Linked DNA regions of Homo sapiens. The protein of the gene in region 2 binds, or shares a complex with, the protein of the main gene of each other region. Each region holds a gene or a part of one and is shown on either strand. Other genes may lie near its edges.

Region 1 (7,527 bases), on a different chromosome or scaffold from region 2:
GAGGAGTTGCCAGGGCCAGTGGGGAGAGGGCCAGGAGGCATGAGGGCCTCAGGGCACACCTCACGGCCAAGGGAAACCCGAGGTACCAGACGGGGCTCTGCCAGGCCACGGGGTCCAGCTGATGCCTCAGCAGGCCCTGTCCTGCAGCCTTGAGGGGGTCCCTGCCCAACACTATATCTGGTCACCCTCACCCCCAGGGCCCACGCCCCTGCTTCTGGAGTGGGGACCACCCACGTCACAGCACCTAGGGTCACCATGAGGATAAACCAGGTCCCTACATGTCAGAGTCCTCAGAGCTGGACTCCTCGCCATGCCCCTCTGACTTCCAGCGCTTATAGCGGTCGATGAGCTCCGTGAGGAAGGAGGTCTTCTTGGTGTAGCGTGTGATGAACTTGTGCTTCAGGAGCTCCTTGGCCGTGGGCCGCTGCAGGGGGTCAGGGGAACACTAGTCACTGGGCCCAGCCAAGCTCTGCCTAAGGGAAGCAAACGTGAGGCAGCCTGGACCGGGGCGGGCCCTCACAGCTACAAGGCTGGTGGGCCTGGGCCTCCGGGCTGTGCCGCCCACCCCAAGCGAACGCCCTCCCTCCACGTCCTGTCTAGAAGGGACCGGGCCAGAGGCGGGCCTTACGAATCGGGGGTCTTTGTTGAGGCAGGCCTCCACGAACTCCTTGAAGGGCTTGCTGTGCTGGCCCTCCAGTGTGGGTGGGCTGTTCTTGGGAATCAGGAACAGGACGCGCATGGGGTGGAGGTCAGAGTTTGGAGGCTCCCCCTTGGCCAGCTCGATGGCTGTGATCCCCAGGGACCAGATGTCAGCCTGGACAGAACACAAGGACTGTTGCTGCCCTGAGCACCCGAGCCAGGCATGGTGCCCGCACCTGCCCGCCCGCTGCACCCACCTTGAAGTCGTAGGCCGACTGCTTGATGACCTCAGGTGCCATCCAGAAGGGGGTGCCCACGAATGTGTTCCTCTTAATCTGCGTGTCTGTGAGCTGCCCTGCTACCCCAAAGTCCGCCAGCTTCACGTCACCCTGCTCCGAGAGTAGCACGTTGGCAGCTGCTTGACACAGGACAGGCAGGCGTCATCCCAGGCTCCACGTGGCTCCACCCCGGGCCCCCTGAGAAGGGCCAGGGTACCATCCACCTGGCCTCCTAGGGCACAGCAGGGCTGTCCTCAGGACCTCAGCCCTCCTTGCCACTCTCAAACCCAGGGCCACCTAGGGCCACAGGGGCACTGCCAGCAGGAGCCCAACGGCTCCACTCCGAGCTCCAGGGCTCTTCCTGCATTTGGCTTTTACGACAAATCCCAACGACAAGCGACTTCGCCCACTGGGGGCTACCGCAGAGGTGACCCTGACCAAGGGTGTAGCCAACACGGGCCTGCCAGGAAGCCCCCTGCTCCACCAGAATCGTCCCCTACATGACAGAGATGGCTCGTTGCCAGTGGCAAGTCCCTCCCCATGGGCTGGCCCAGCCTCCCGTCTGCTCTCAGCAGGGCCAGACCACACGCTGGGGCTACTCAATTCTACACCTGCTGCTGTGCCGTGCACCACAGGGAACCAACAACTCCAGCCAAGTGTGGCCCTTTCCTACACTCAGTCCACAGCTGGTTTCCTCAGCGTACAAGGAAACCGTTACAAGTAGTATCTTCTGGAAAGGGAGCGAGACAGGACTGCTCAGTTTCAGGGTGGCCACAAGGTTCTCTATACTCCAGACCCTGGGCACCACTAGCCACTTGCCCCTCACAGGCCCCGGCCTCTCTAAGGTCAGTGGGGCTCAGGACGTTACAAGAGCCACATCCACCCCCAGCAGGACCTTTGATGTCTCGGTGGATCTTGCGTTCGGAGTGCAGATAATCCAGGCCCTTCAGAATCTCCCGCAGGATCGTGGCAATGTATGTCTCCTCCAGGGGACCTGGTTTAAGCTGGAGAGGAAGGTGCGACAGCAGGGCCTCAGCTCCTGTCCCAGGCCCAATGCCTGAGTTCTCTGCCTCTCTCACAGGGAAGGGCTGTCCCTGCAGATAGCTGGGGGCTTCGTGTTCCTTTACTTCCCAAACAGAACTAAGTTTCAGATGGGAGTGGGGTGGTGGAGGCTCTTTCTAAAGCATATAAACCAGCCTCACCTTACTGTCATGTAACAGAAAAATAGGCTCCCAGCCATCTCCCAGCAGGCCTGCCCCCGCCCACTCCCACAGGCCAGGACCCCTTTCAGCACCAACTGGGCAGACGTGCAGATGGCAGTTCATTTTTGCTTTAGACGATTCCTAATTAACACCTAACGTGCCATGACACCAAACGAGAGGTGGCCCCTGGAGCCCATGAGTCTGAGGGGCAGGGGACTCGGACACTGCATGACCCCCCACTGCCATGGCCTATGCCTCACCAAGTCCAGTGCTGAGCCGCCGCCCAGGTACTCCATGATGATCCATAGCTTGGTGCTCTGGGACCGGAGACAAACCCATCAGCATTTGGCAGCAAGAGGAAGGGCATGCTCCAGGGTGGGAGTCACAGGCCGGAGTCAGCCAGGGCCCAGGCCCCACCGGTCCCATCCCTGCCAAGAACCCTGAACAGGAAAGGGCTCTCTCGGCCTTGCCCATCTTCCCCTCCTGCCACACTACTGCTACAGATGCTCAGAGGACAGGTTGAGTACACACAGCAGTGGCTGACTCCACTTCACCAAGACCCCATCAAAAACCAGGCTGCTGATCCAGTCCTACAGGGCTGGGAAGAGGGCATGGCTGGCAAGCATGTGACCCGACACACCCATCACCCTCCTGGGCAGGATGGCCACAGCGTTCCCTACACCCCAGACACTGGCACCACCAGCCACCTGCTCCTCACAGGCCCACTCACCACTGCCAGTAGGGGCCCCCCAGAGTGCTCCTAGCAGCGCCCTCACTGCATTACCACAGGCAGGCAAGTGGGTCCCAATGGCCATTTAGAGCCAACTGACCCTCGTGGACGAGGGCTCACACCCTGCCTGCCCAGGGCAGTTTCCCGGAGGGCATGCACTGAACCGTCAAGACCGCCTTGCACCCTCTGGCATGTCACTCAGTCCCTCTGACATGGAAGAGAGCCGGGCACAGCACCAGCAGGGTCCCCGCCTCCCCACAACAGGCACCTTTAGGTAGGAGCCAAAGTAGCGGGTGATGTAGGGGCTGTCGCACTGACTGAGGACAGTGATCTCCTGCTGGATGTCCTCGATCTCATCCTCGGCCTCCTCCAGGTCGATGATCTTGATGGCCACCACCTCCTTTGTGTGGTTATCGATGCCCTTGTAGACCTCCCCAAACGAGCCCTTGCCAATGCGGTCGAGCTTGGTGAAGAGCTCCTCAGGGTCCACTCGAGAGTGCTGTGGGGCCAGGGCGGGGACAGAGGGCAGACAGCGCCGGTCACAAGAGGCGGGGGACAGGCAGAGGCTGCCCTGCTGGGGAGGAAGGGACCTGTAGGGAAGGGGGAGTCCAAGGGAGCGCACCTCAATTCTTCTCTGGTTTCTTCCTTTCTCCCTTTTTGTTCAAAAACTAAACTTGGCCGGGCGTGGTGGCTCACGCCTGTAATTCTAGCACTTTGGGAGGCCGAGGCAGGTGGATCACTTGAGGTCAGGAGTTCGAGACCAGCCTGGCCAGCATGGTGAAACCCCATCTCTAATACAAAAAAATTATCTGGGCGTGGCGGCTCATGCCTGTAATCCCAGCTACTCAGGAGGCTGAGGCAGGAGAATTGCTTGAACCCGGGAGGCGGAGGTTGCAGTGAGCCAAGACCGCACCATTGCACTCCAACCTGGGCAACAAGAATCAAACTCCATTAAAAAAACAAACAAACAAACAAATAACAACAACAAAAAAACCTAAACTGAACTTTCCATGCAAGGGAAAAAGTCCCCAGAAAGTATAAAGAGGCCAGGCCAACTCGATGAACCCTGCTGGAAACAGGAGCTTTAGGTGATGACACGGCATGAAGGTTGCCTCATCTAACCCGAACAACATGCCAGCCCCGTGACAGATGTTAATAGGTGAATGGCCCCTGGGGGTGAGGGGGGATTTGGGAGCTCTTACTTAATTTGTTATAAATCTGAAATTACTAAAAAATAAACTCATCAGGCCAGGCTTGGTGGTGCACACCTGAAATCCCAGCACTCTGGGAGGCCAAGGCGGGTTGATCACCTGAAGTCAGGAGTTCGCAACCAGCCTGACTAACATGGTAAAACCCCATCTCTACTGAATACAAAAAAAATTAGCCGGGCGAGGTTGCGTATGCCTGTGATCCGAGCTACTTGAGAGTCCAAGACAGAAGAATCACTTGAATCAGGGAAGCGGAGGTTGCGGTGAGCCGAGATCGCACCATCGCACTCCAGCCTGGGCAACAAGAGCGAAACTAGGTCTCAAAAAAATAAAAAATTTAAAAAAAAAAACCTCATCAAAAACAAAAAACCTCAGTATGTGTTAACCAAGTTCTCCTCCACTCCTGAAAGTCACGTATTTAGAAAGGGCTTCCCTCACCCCTCCATAAGTCCTCCTGACAGCTACACCAGCGCGGAGTTAGAAACTTGATGCTTTCTTGATGCAGAAAGCTGCCTCACACAGTCCTCAGATTTAAAGAAGCAATGCCTAAAAGTTTCTGAGCCAGTGGTGTGGAAGGTGCCTGGGGTCTGTGGCCCAGGCCCAGAGTCCAGGGGAAGCCAGCAGAGGTGTGTCCTCAAGCCTCGACCCTTTTTTAAATGTTTTTGAGATGGCTTCTCACTCTGTCACCCAGGCTGGAGTGTAGTGGTGCAATCTTGGCTCACTGCAACCTCTGCCTCCTGGGTTCAAGCGATTCTTCTGCCTCAGCCTCCCAAGTAGCTGGAATTACAGGCATGCACCACCACTCCCAGTTAATTTTTTGTATTTTTAGTAGAGATAAGGTTTCACCATGTTGGCCAGGCTGGTCTCGAACTCCTGACTTCAGGTGATCTGCCCATCTCAGCCTCCCAAAGTGCTGGGATTACAGGCGTGAGCCACCACGCACGGCCCCTCCCCTAACAACATCAAGGGTCTTGATGCCAATTTAGTGTGGCAGAGCATAAAAAGGCAAAACAGCCTGGGCGCGGTGGTTCACGCCTGTAATCCCAACACTTTGGGAGGCCGAGGCGGGCAGATCACGAGGTCAGGAGATCAAGACCACCCTGGCTAACATGGTGAAACCCCGTCTCTACTAAAAAATACAAAAAATTAGCCGGGTGTGGTGGTGGGCGCCTGCAGTCCCAGCTACTCGGGAGGCTGAGGCAGGATAATATCATGAACCCAGGAGGCGGAGATCGTGCCACTGCACTCCAGCCTGGGCGACAGAGCAAGACTCCGTCTCAAAAAAAAAAAAAAAAAAAAAGGCAAAACGACTAATTATGCCACAAAAAAAAACACTGAAGACAGGACAGGTCCTTGGGTGGGGGTGCCCTGCACGTTCCTGGGCCTGCGGAGACCGTGCCCACCAAGAAGGATGGGGTACACCACACACAGCCCTCACACTCACCCCCTGGACACCTGTGTGCTGGGTCCACCCCAGGCCTAAGCCCAGCGGAGGAGCTGGCTGAAGCCAACTGGACATCGCACCAGCCTGAGGCGACACTTCCGTGTGAAACTGCCAATTAGCTGACCTCCCAGGGTTCCTAACCAGGAGGGTGGAAGGGGCGGCACACAGGCCCCCACCTTGAAACATGCCGCTGCACATCCCTTTTTGAGTGCCAGACCTCGAGGTGACTGGAACTCTGGGGAAGGAAAGGCAGTTAGGGGAGGGCCAGAGGCCACCTAACCTTTCCCTGCAAGGCTGGCTTGTCAAGGCCCGGGGGTGTGCAGGTGGCCTCCATGCAGCAGCTAGAGCAGGCCAGCTGCAGTGTACACACAGACCCTTGCTTAGCCCAAAGGTCTGGCCAGTTGAGACAGCTGGTCGAGTCAAAAGTGACCTTTCTCATTCTCTCATCAGTACAGCAGCCCAGTCCTAAAGCCAGTACCCATGGAGGAAACAGCAGGGGGTGCCTTGAGCCCACCTGCTACCAGGAGTCCCCAAAGCCAAGGTCAAGAAACTCGGCAGGATAGAGAGAGCTGAGTACTGCCTGGGGTCATTCCGGTCAAGGTGAGCTGTGTCTGCCCCCAGCCCCATCACTGCTGCTGACCATGTGTTCTAAAGAGAAGCCAGGAAAAATTCAAAGCTGACAAGTCACAGGTGCTCAGCTGTCTCCGGGTTGAGGGTGGGTGGCACAGATGAGGTGAGAACCAGCCCCTATCTGAAAGGAAAGTCAACCCAGAACATGCAATCTTTTTTTGAGATGGGGGGTCTCGCTGTGTGCCCAGGCTGGTCTCCTCAGCCTCCTGAGTAGCTGGGCCCACAAGTGCATGTCAAAGCATAAGCTCATCAGCCCACTGGCTGTCATAGGTAAGCAGTCAGTGTTAAAATATCACCCTCCTGCCATAGAGAGCATCATCTCCGTTTCCTCCTCCCTGTTTGCTCCATTTCTGGTGGAGGACCACCCGTTCCTAGCCCAGTCCTGGATGCCAGGTGCAGGACAAGGTTAAGAAGCAGCCCCTCTTCTTTTTCTTTTTTTTTTTGAGATAGAGTCTCACTCTGTTGCCCAGGCTGGAGTGCAGTGGCGTGATCTCGGCTCACTGCAACCTCCGCCTCCCAGGTTCAAGCGATTCTTCCACCTCAGCCTCCCGAGTAGCCGGACTTACAGGCACCCGCCATCATGCCCCGTTAATTTTTTTTTTTTTTGAATTTTTGTAGAGACAGGGTTTCACCATGTTGGCCAGGCTAGTCTCGAACTCCTGACCTCAGGTGATCTGCAGAAGCAGCCCCTCTTCTGCCTGCTCCTCCTCCAGCAGGCCCAACGCCACCTTGTCAAATCCTCCCTGTTTGCTCAGCCCATCAACGCTTACTCGGGGCCCTGGGACGCTGCTCCACCGAGCCGTTAGCCTGTAGGCCTGGCCTCAGCCTCAACCCAACCCTGCCCAAGCACCCGGAAAGACCCCAAGGGAGTCCTCCTGGGGATTCCAGAGGTCTGTTGGTGCCCTGAGCTTGTGTCCTCCCATCTACTCCTGTCTAAGGTGGCCTGAGAGAGGGCCTGGAGAAAGCAGGGCCATGACCTGGCAGCATTACCCAGCACCACCACCCCTCCGACTCTTCAGGCCTCTCTGGATGACGCGTCCTCCCGCCCTGCTCTACTCCCTGCTCCCTGCTGAGGCCATGCTGCTCTCCACACAGGGCCTGGAGCTGAATCTGCTCCATCACAGCAGCCCCGGTAGGGAAACCCCTGGGTGGGCACTCAGACCTCTACTGCTTCACAGCAGGGGAGCACAGCGGACCCCTAAGCCAGAGCCAGGGCTCATCAGCCCAAGCAGAAACTGTGTGACAGGAACCCTCTTGGCTGTGATCCTGGCCCTACAATGACATCGCAGGCCAAGCCAAGGCAAGCCATCCCCACCCCCACCTGGAGAAGAAAGGGTAAGTGGGCCCCTGGCCTGGAGGCTGCGAATCCTCTTTTGGATGTAGCAGCAGCTGTGGC
Region 2 (7,527 bases):
TTTCAATTAGAAAAATATATTGATCACGACCACAAGTGGACATACCATCTGAATAAATAAAGCCTCCTGTAGTTAACTTGTCATTTAAAAAATGAATTAGATGAAAAGGATAATTTTCTGCAGTATGCTCAGCCATTTGAAGACTGGAGTCATTTAAGAAAAACATGAAACATCCTTAGAGAGGACCTAATTATTTCATATTGGTTGTGGCTCTTTAAAAATGGCAGAGCATTCCATGCCCTATACAGAGTACACAAGGAAATAATTTTCACATTGAATATAGATCTCTTACAGAATGAGGAAAAAAACACTTTACACAACACACTTTTCGATAACATGCAGTATTGAGGGAATAGTAAATCATCATCCTTCACAAAGAAGGTGCAGGTGCTCTAAAATAATCTTAGAGCTAATGATTTCAGAAAGAGGCTTCCAAATTTGAAATTTAAAATGCAAACTTAATTTCAAAGTTGGTTTTTCCAAATCTCTGATAAGTCCTAGGAATCCAGTGTGAGCAAGAAGAAAACTTTCTCCCTATTTTATGACTTGTACCTCCCACTATCTGTGATGAATGCCATGGGTCAAATGCCATAACAAATTTCCTCTTTTAGAGCCAGCAAAGTCTAGCCTGGTTGTAGCCAAGACTAAAGCAGGAAAAGGTCCTACCAAAGAGCTTGTCTAGAATTGATCCACCAAAAGATTTCCAAGGCCAACTGGGCACCCAACTGACCCCAGGGCAAGTTGATCATTTTATTGTGATTCAGGATCCCACCCTTGCACCATCTTTAGGCCCAAGAGCCCCCAGAAGAGCCCTGAACTGGTAACAGCGCCTGTATGGACAGGGTAGGCAGAGCACAGTTTATTGGAGCTGACCTCTATCTATTGATGCTTGTTGACAAGAACTTAGTCAGTGATTCTGGAGCAGCTCCTCCCAACAGATGGGCTGTGAAAACACCTCTCTCTCGAGCCAGAGCTCATATGAATAGTGGAAATCTTCAGGCAGATCCAACCTCTGCCCCAGTACGCTCTGCAAGCAGTTATCCACAGGTGAAAACTCAGAGTCCTGGGGTCTGTCATAGCGACGGCTGTTAAAAGCCTCAATGTTGGCCCTCAAGGTACATTCTTCTGCTTGGAAGTCCCATGGTCTGGCATCGATGTCTGTGTTGGAAAGAGAGGAAGAAGAAGACATACAATGCAAGACACTGCTCCTCTTATCACAGAGCATGGTCTATGGGATTCCAAAAATGGAACTGCTCAGAAATTCTTTTTTTTTTTTTTTTTGTAAAGAGCAATGTATGAAGTTAGTATACAGCATGCTGACACTTAGGTTTAAAAAATACACATATGCCCACATGCATAAGCTTGTATATGCAGAAATTATCTTTGGAAGGGTAGTCTAGAAACTGGTAATAGTGGTTACCTATGAGAAAGGAAATGAGGGCCCAGAGGGAGGTGGACTTCTTCTATTGTATTTCCTTTTTATTATTTCACTTTCTTATTAGCTTTATGTATTACTAGTTATATGTATTATGTTTCCCAAAAGGGTAATTAAATTCCTTTTATGCAGCTTTCCTTAGGGGATGAGTGTCCCATCTGAATGGAATAGCCAGCTTTCAAGGAATAGGAAGGGGCAAGAGGGGTATAACATGGAGAATCAGAATGGACCAATTACCGAAGATTTTCCTGATTCCCTGGAATCTCCTCCAGCACATGATAAATCTATATGTCAGCTTATTTTAAGATGATGAGGTGACGGCTTCAATGAAGGTAAAAACAGAAAACAGATAATCTGTTTCGCTTCTATTCACTTAGACACTTATTTCAGGGCTGAAGATACAAATCTCCCAGATCTCTCATGTTCTACATGCAAGGGTTTATCATAAGGAAGTGTAGTGTGAGTTTGGGCTCATAATGGCAGCAACAACAGATGTGCCATTTGCAGGATAAAACATTTTTGTGTTTTAAAAATTTACAAGAATTTAATAGATAATTGTGCTTTATGTCTTATAGCAGAAGTTGCATCCTGGCTTGTTATGTGCCTATCATATGTTTCCTTTAGTTCTCTAAACCCTTTTTTAGTGAAAAGACAGTCCCTCAGCACCACAAATTATGCAGTTGAGTTTCCCACATTTAGGGGAATAGCAGGGGTCAGCATATCTGGAGTAAAATGGATAAGACTTGTCCTGGGAAAACCATCTTCATGATCATGGTATTTTCCCTGCCAGGTAAGTAAGTAGAGTTATCTGAACTCTTTACTGCATCATCCTTTAAAATTCAAGCAGGTTACAAACACAGCAAAGACAAGTCATTACCAAAAATTCTCAAATACAATTATGGAAATAATGGTCAAATACAAAACAATAAAAAAGCTCTCCAAAATAAATTTTTCCAAACTCTGATCAATCTTACAAGTTCTGGTAGTTTAACCAAATATCTTGCCTTCTGATGTGAGGCAATGTACAGTTCCCAAGATTACCTAGGACATACTGCAGCCAAAAAGGTTTAAATTGAATTCATCAAACCTTTAGATTTAACTTCAAGTTTACAGGTAATACCATAGATAGACGAATAAAGTAGATAACACCACAAAGAAGAAAACAGACAAATCCAGAATGTGAGTATTTTGCAGGACAACTGGCCTAGTTCTTCAATTAGTTAGCATTAATGGTGGAGGTGGGGAGACTGCTTAGAGGCCAAGCACGGTGGCTTACACCTGTAATCCCAGCACTTTGGGAGGCCAGGGCAGGAGGATCCCTTGAGCCCAGGAGTTCAAGACCAGCCTGGGCAACACAGGGAGAGACTCCATCTCTACAAAAAAATTTGAAAAATTAGCCGGGTGTAGTGGTGGTATGCATCTGTAGTCCCAGCTACTTGGCAGCTGGGAGGATCACTTGAGCCCAGGAAGTCGAGGCTGCAGTGAGCCATTATCATGTCACTGCTTTCCAGCCTGGGTGACAGAGCGACCCTCTCAAAAAAACAAACAAACAAAAAACAGAAAACAAAAATAATTAACATATATATAACAACTGGATGCAACCTGTGGTCCTGGATTGGATTCTGACTTGGAAAAATAGCTATGAAGAACATTTTGGGACAACTCGAAAATTGTGAATATGAACTTTATTAGATGAAATGAAAATGTACTGACATGAAAAGGTAGAGATAATGTTAAAAGAGAAAATTACAAAATAGCATACATAACTTGCTTTCATTTTGATAAAATATGCATGTATATGCATAGAAAAAGATCTGGAGGAATATACAATAAGATGTTAATGGTGGCAATTTCTGCATAGTACAAATATGGCATAAATATAATATAGTAAAATGTTTGTTTACTTGTATTTTCTATCTTTTTTTCTAACTGCTTTGTAATAATAAAAAGTTGTTTTAATTTAAATCTTTTGGAGAAAGCTGTCATTTAAAAGAATGTTTTGGAAAGGCAATTAATTATCTCTCAATTTACTTGTTTTATAAAACGGATTTTCATAGTTTACATAGGACAAGGGTACATACTAGAATTTGAGGCATAACCTTAAAGTTTGGTGTATCAGCGCCTGACCTATAATCACATATTTTTTCATCTAAAATATGTAACAATTCATGCCAAAAGAGGAGTGATAAATATTTATTTAGTTTTGTCTAAACCCCAGGAAACTCCAGGAAGTCAAGAGCTTTGGGAAGACTCACCATTCCCGTAAGCCCAGTCATCGTTCATGCGGTGACGCACTTTCTGGTAAATGGCTGACATGGTTTTCATGTTGCTTTTCCTCCATTGGCGCCCCAGGTACTTGGTCTGTAACTTTAGTAGCTTTAGGACATAAAGTTGCAGCATGGCCTGTTTGACCTTGAGGGCCCGCTTTAAGATTGGTGCCGATTTAAACACTACCAGCATCTGTTCATTGAAAGAGGGGTGGGGTAAAGATCTAACGTTTCTTGGAATTTCCAGTTTACAGACAAATTAAACCAAACCTAGCTAGCCTCAGAAATTCCTGGGGAGCTTTCAGGAATCTATGGTCCAGGCTCTACTTAGATTTAATCTTCAAGAATATAGAGGGGGGCTGGGCAAGGTGGCTCATGTCTGTAATCCCAGCACTTTGGGAGGCCGAAGCCAGTGGATCACGTAAGGTCAGGAGTTTGAGACCACCCTGGCCAACATGATGAAACCCCATCTCTACTAAAAATACAAAAATTAGCCAGGCGTGGTGGCATGGGCCTGTAATCCCAGCTACTAAGGAGGCTGAGGCACATGAATTGCTTGAACCCAGGAGGCGGAGGTTGCAGTGAGCTGAGATCATGCCACTGCACTACAGCCTGAGTGACAGAGCAAGACTCCGTCTCAAAAAAAAAAAAAAAAAATATATATATATATATATATATAGAGAGAGAGAGAGAGAGAGAGAACTATTCCATTCATATTTTATTGTTCAAAGTTTTCAATATTCAAAGCATATGGTATAAAGTGAAAAGAAAATTTTGTCAGCCACACATATCATTTCCACTGTCACAGTATTTTTGTTTATTTTCTGGAGATAATTCTATGTATGCATATATTACTTTTATTTTTTTGTTTTGTTTTGTTTTTAAGATGGAGTCTTACTCTGTCGCCCAGGCTGGAGTGCAGTGGTGCAGTCTCGATTCACTGCAACCTCAACCTCCTGGGTTCAAGTGATTCTCCTGCCTCAGCCTCCCCTGAGTAGAGGCGCCCGCCACCACACCCAGCTAATTTTTAGTAGAGATGGGGTTTCATCATGTTGGTCAGGCTGGTCTCAAACTCCTGACCTCAAGTGATCCTCCCACCTTGGCCTTCCGAAGTGCTGGAATTACAGGTGTGGGCCACCACACCCAGCCTACTTTTGTTTTTTAACACAAATGGTAGCCAACTACATATCCTGCCACACTGTTCTATACCTGGTTTTTTTTATTGAATATATCTTGAAAACCATTCCATATCAGTACAGAACTGCCTCATTCTTTTACTTTTTTTAATAGAGATGGGGTCTTATCATGTTGCCCAGGCTGGTCTCAAACTCCTGGGCTCAGGCAATCCTTCTGCCTCAGCCTCCCAAAGTGCTGGGATTACAGGCATGCACCACTGAGCCCGGCTGCTCATTCTTTTTAATGATTGCATAATATTCTATTATAAGGACATACCATCATTTATTTAACCAGTTGGTCCTGCTTAATGAGCATTTAGCTTGTTTCCAGGCTTTCATTATTATTATTATTATTATTATTTTGAGACGGAGTCTCACTCCGTTGCCCACGCTGGAGTGCAGTGGCATGATCTCGGCTCACTGAAACCTCTGCCTCCCAGGTTCAAATGATTCTCCTGCCTCAGCCTCCCGAGTAGCTGGGACTATAGGTGCCTGCCACCTTTCCCAGCTAATTTTTGTATTTTTAGTAGAGATGGAGTTTCACCATGTTGGTCAGGCTGGTCTCGAACTCCTGACCTTGTTATCTGCCCGCCTCGGCTTCCCAAAGTGCTGGGATTACAGGCATGAGCTACGGAGCCCAGACAAGCTTTCATTATTATAAACAATGTTGCAATGATAAACCTTGCACTTGCATCATTTGGGAATGTATGTAATCCAAACAACATTGCTAGCTTCCCTGCTAGAGTTGCCCTGAGGGAGGGTTTGAGATTCAGCCCCCTGAAAAGAAATGGACTGATAAGTAATCATCTAATATAGAATAAGTGCCCAGAATTATGAGGTGCTAAATCTTATGTAGCATTCAGTGTCTATATACGGAGATCACAAACCAGGTAGCACACAAATATTTACTAGTGATCTTTTAAAAATTCAGTCAGATGGACAACTCCATGATGTAAAAAACCACACTCACCATGGTCCGGGAATGTTTCCATTTGGTCAGTTTATTGAGCAGCCTCAGGAGGTTGATGCAGGAAAAGAGGTTCCTCCAGCAGAACTGGCTGTTGTCTCCAGCTTCCTATAGTAGGGAACATCCATCATTATCTTAATACCTACAAGGCTTTAATTCCCACAGAAGCCTGGAAGTCAATGTTGGTCAGTTTAGGTGAGGCCTTCCTGTATGAAATAATACCTCCTCACCTTCCTGTTTCTTAACACACTGAAGTCTCCAAAGCCCATGGTTTAAAAACCCCCTCAGCTGCCAATCCTGGAAGACTCTACCTACAGCATGTGTTGGTTAGAAAGATGATACATGAGCACAGGAACCTGATTCAGGCAAGTTTTCTTGTGTAGCTTATTGCTCTAGGATCAGAAAAGAGATGAGAGAATTTTACCCCCATATACAGGTACTTTGCGCTTATATAAACTATGTTTGTAATTGTTAGGATTAGGTCTAATTCTGGTAGATTTTAAACTATGTTGGATGGATCTGATATCAACTATGGTTGAATTTTTTTTTATCTTATCAACCTTCACCCTCCTTTATCAAACCATATTACAGTTAGATGCTTAATTCTTCAGCATGGAAGGAAAAATGGCAGATGGTTTCTTCTAATCAGATATTTTTCTTATATATTTCTTGATAGTTTGTGAACACCTAACCAGAGACAACAGATGGATGTCAGATTAAAAGCAGGTATCTACTCATAGAAAGATTTTTCAGAAATAAAAATGTGAGTCCTTATGTGAATTTGGGGCTTGCAAATACATACTGGTGTCAGAAGCTATATAACTCAATGAGCACACGTGACAGCCAAACTAACATCTTGGAAATTCCTCACATCTACAATGTGATAGGAGAATGTAGGAGTAGATGACATGTAGAAGTGAGCTGCTGTCTGGTGAATGGAAAATTACCTCCTCCTCCCTCAAATTAATTTGAAGCAAGACAGGCATATATCTAATGTGGAATGAACATCCAAAGTTTTTGAGGGTATTAGGCTTTCCTAATACCTAATACCAAGAGCCAAAAAGTTTCAGGGAAATTTCTTATTTAGAAATATTATTTATAGGTCGGTTGTGGTAGCTCACACTGGTAATCCTAGCACTTTGGGAGGCCGAGGCAGGCAGATGACCTGAGTTCAGGAGTTCGAGACCAGCTTGGCCAACATGGTGAAACTCCATTTCTACTAAAAAAATTAAAAAATTAGCTGGGCATGGTGGCAGGAGCCTGTAATCCCAGCTACTTGGGAGGCTGAGGCAGGAGAATCACTTGAACCCAGGAGGCAGAGGTTGCAGTGAGCCAAGACCACGCCATTGAACTCTAGCCTGGGCAACAAGAGAGAAACTCCATCTCAAAAAAAAAAAAAAAGAAACATTATTTATAAATAATATTCTCCATCATACAGTAAATGTTCAATATTGTCCCAGGAGAACCATCTGTCTGCTTCTAAGGAAAACTTCTATGGGACTTTCTACTGTAGTGCATCAGGTAGTCTGGCTTGCCCCAAATAGACCAAGTTCTACAGACGTTATATCTTGTGTGGTTAATAGAGACAGGGAGACTTTTACATTTTTTTTTTTTTTTTGAGACAGAGTTTTGCTTTTGTTGCCCAGACTTGAGTGCAGTGGGGTGATCTTGGCTCACTGCAAC

The links.
Region 1: STRIP2 (region 2) and STK25 share a complex: the UniProt entries of both Homo sapiens proteins name them as parts of the core of STRIPAK complex.

The regions. Positions count from the first base shown.
Region 1 is NC_000002.12:241,498,361-241,505,887, forward strand, and holds part of STK25 (serine/threonine-protein kinase 25), read right to left. Parts: intron 3,349-7,527; coding exon 3,118-3,348; intron 2,437-3,117; coding exon 2,380-2,436; intron 1,922-2,379; coding exon 1,813-1,921; intron 1,055-1,812; coding exon 897-1,054; intron 815-896; coding exon 629-814; intron 425-628; coding exon 279-424; intron 1-278. UniProt on the Homo sapiens protein: Oxidant stress-activated serine/threonine kinase that may play a role in the response to environmental stress.
Region 2 is NC_000007.14:129,479,210-129,486,736, reverse strand, and holds part of STRIP2 (striatin-interacting protein 2), read right to left. Parts: intron 6,237-7,527; coding exon of another isoform or gene 6,156-6,236; exon of another isoform or gene 5,953-6,155; coding exon 5,848-5,952; intron 3,896-5,847; coding exon 3,691-3,895; coding exon of another isoform or gene 3,668-3,690; exon of another isoform or gene 3,106-3,667; intron 1,159-3,105; coding exon 908-1,158; 3' UTR 1-907. UniProt on the Homo sapiens protein: Plays a role in the regulation of cell morphology and cytoskeletal organization. Required in the control of cell shape. Calmodulin-binding scaffolding protein which is the center of the striatin-interacting phosphatase and kinase (STRIPAK) complexes.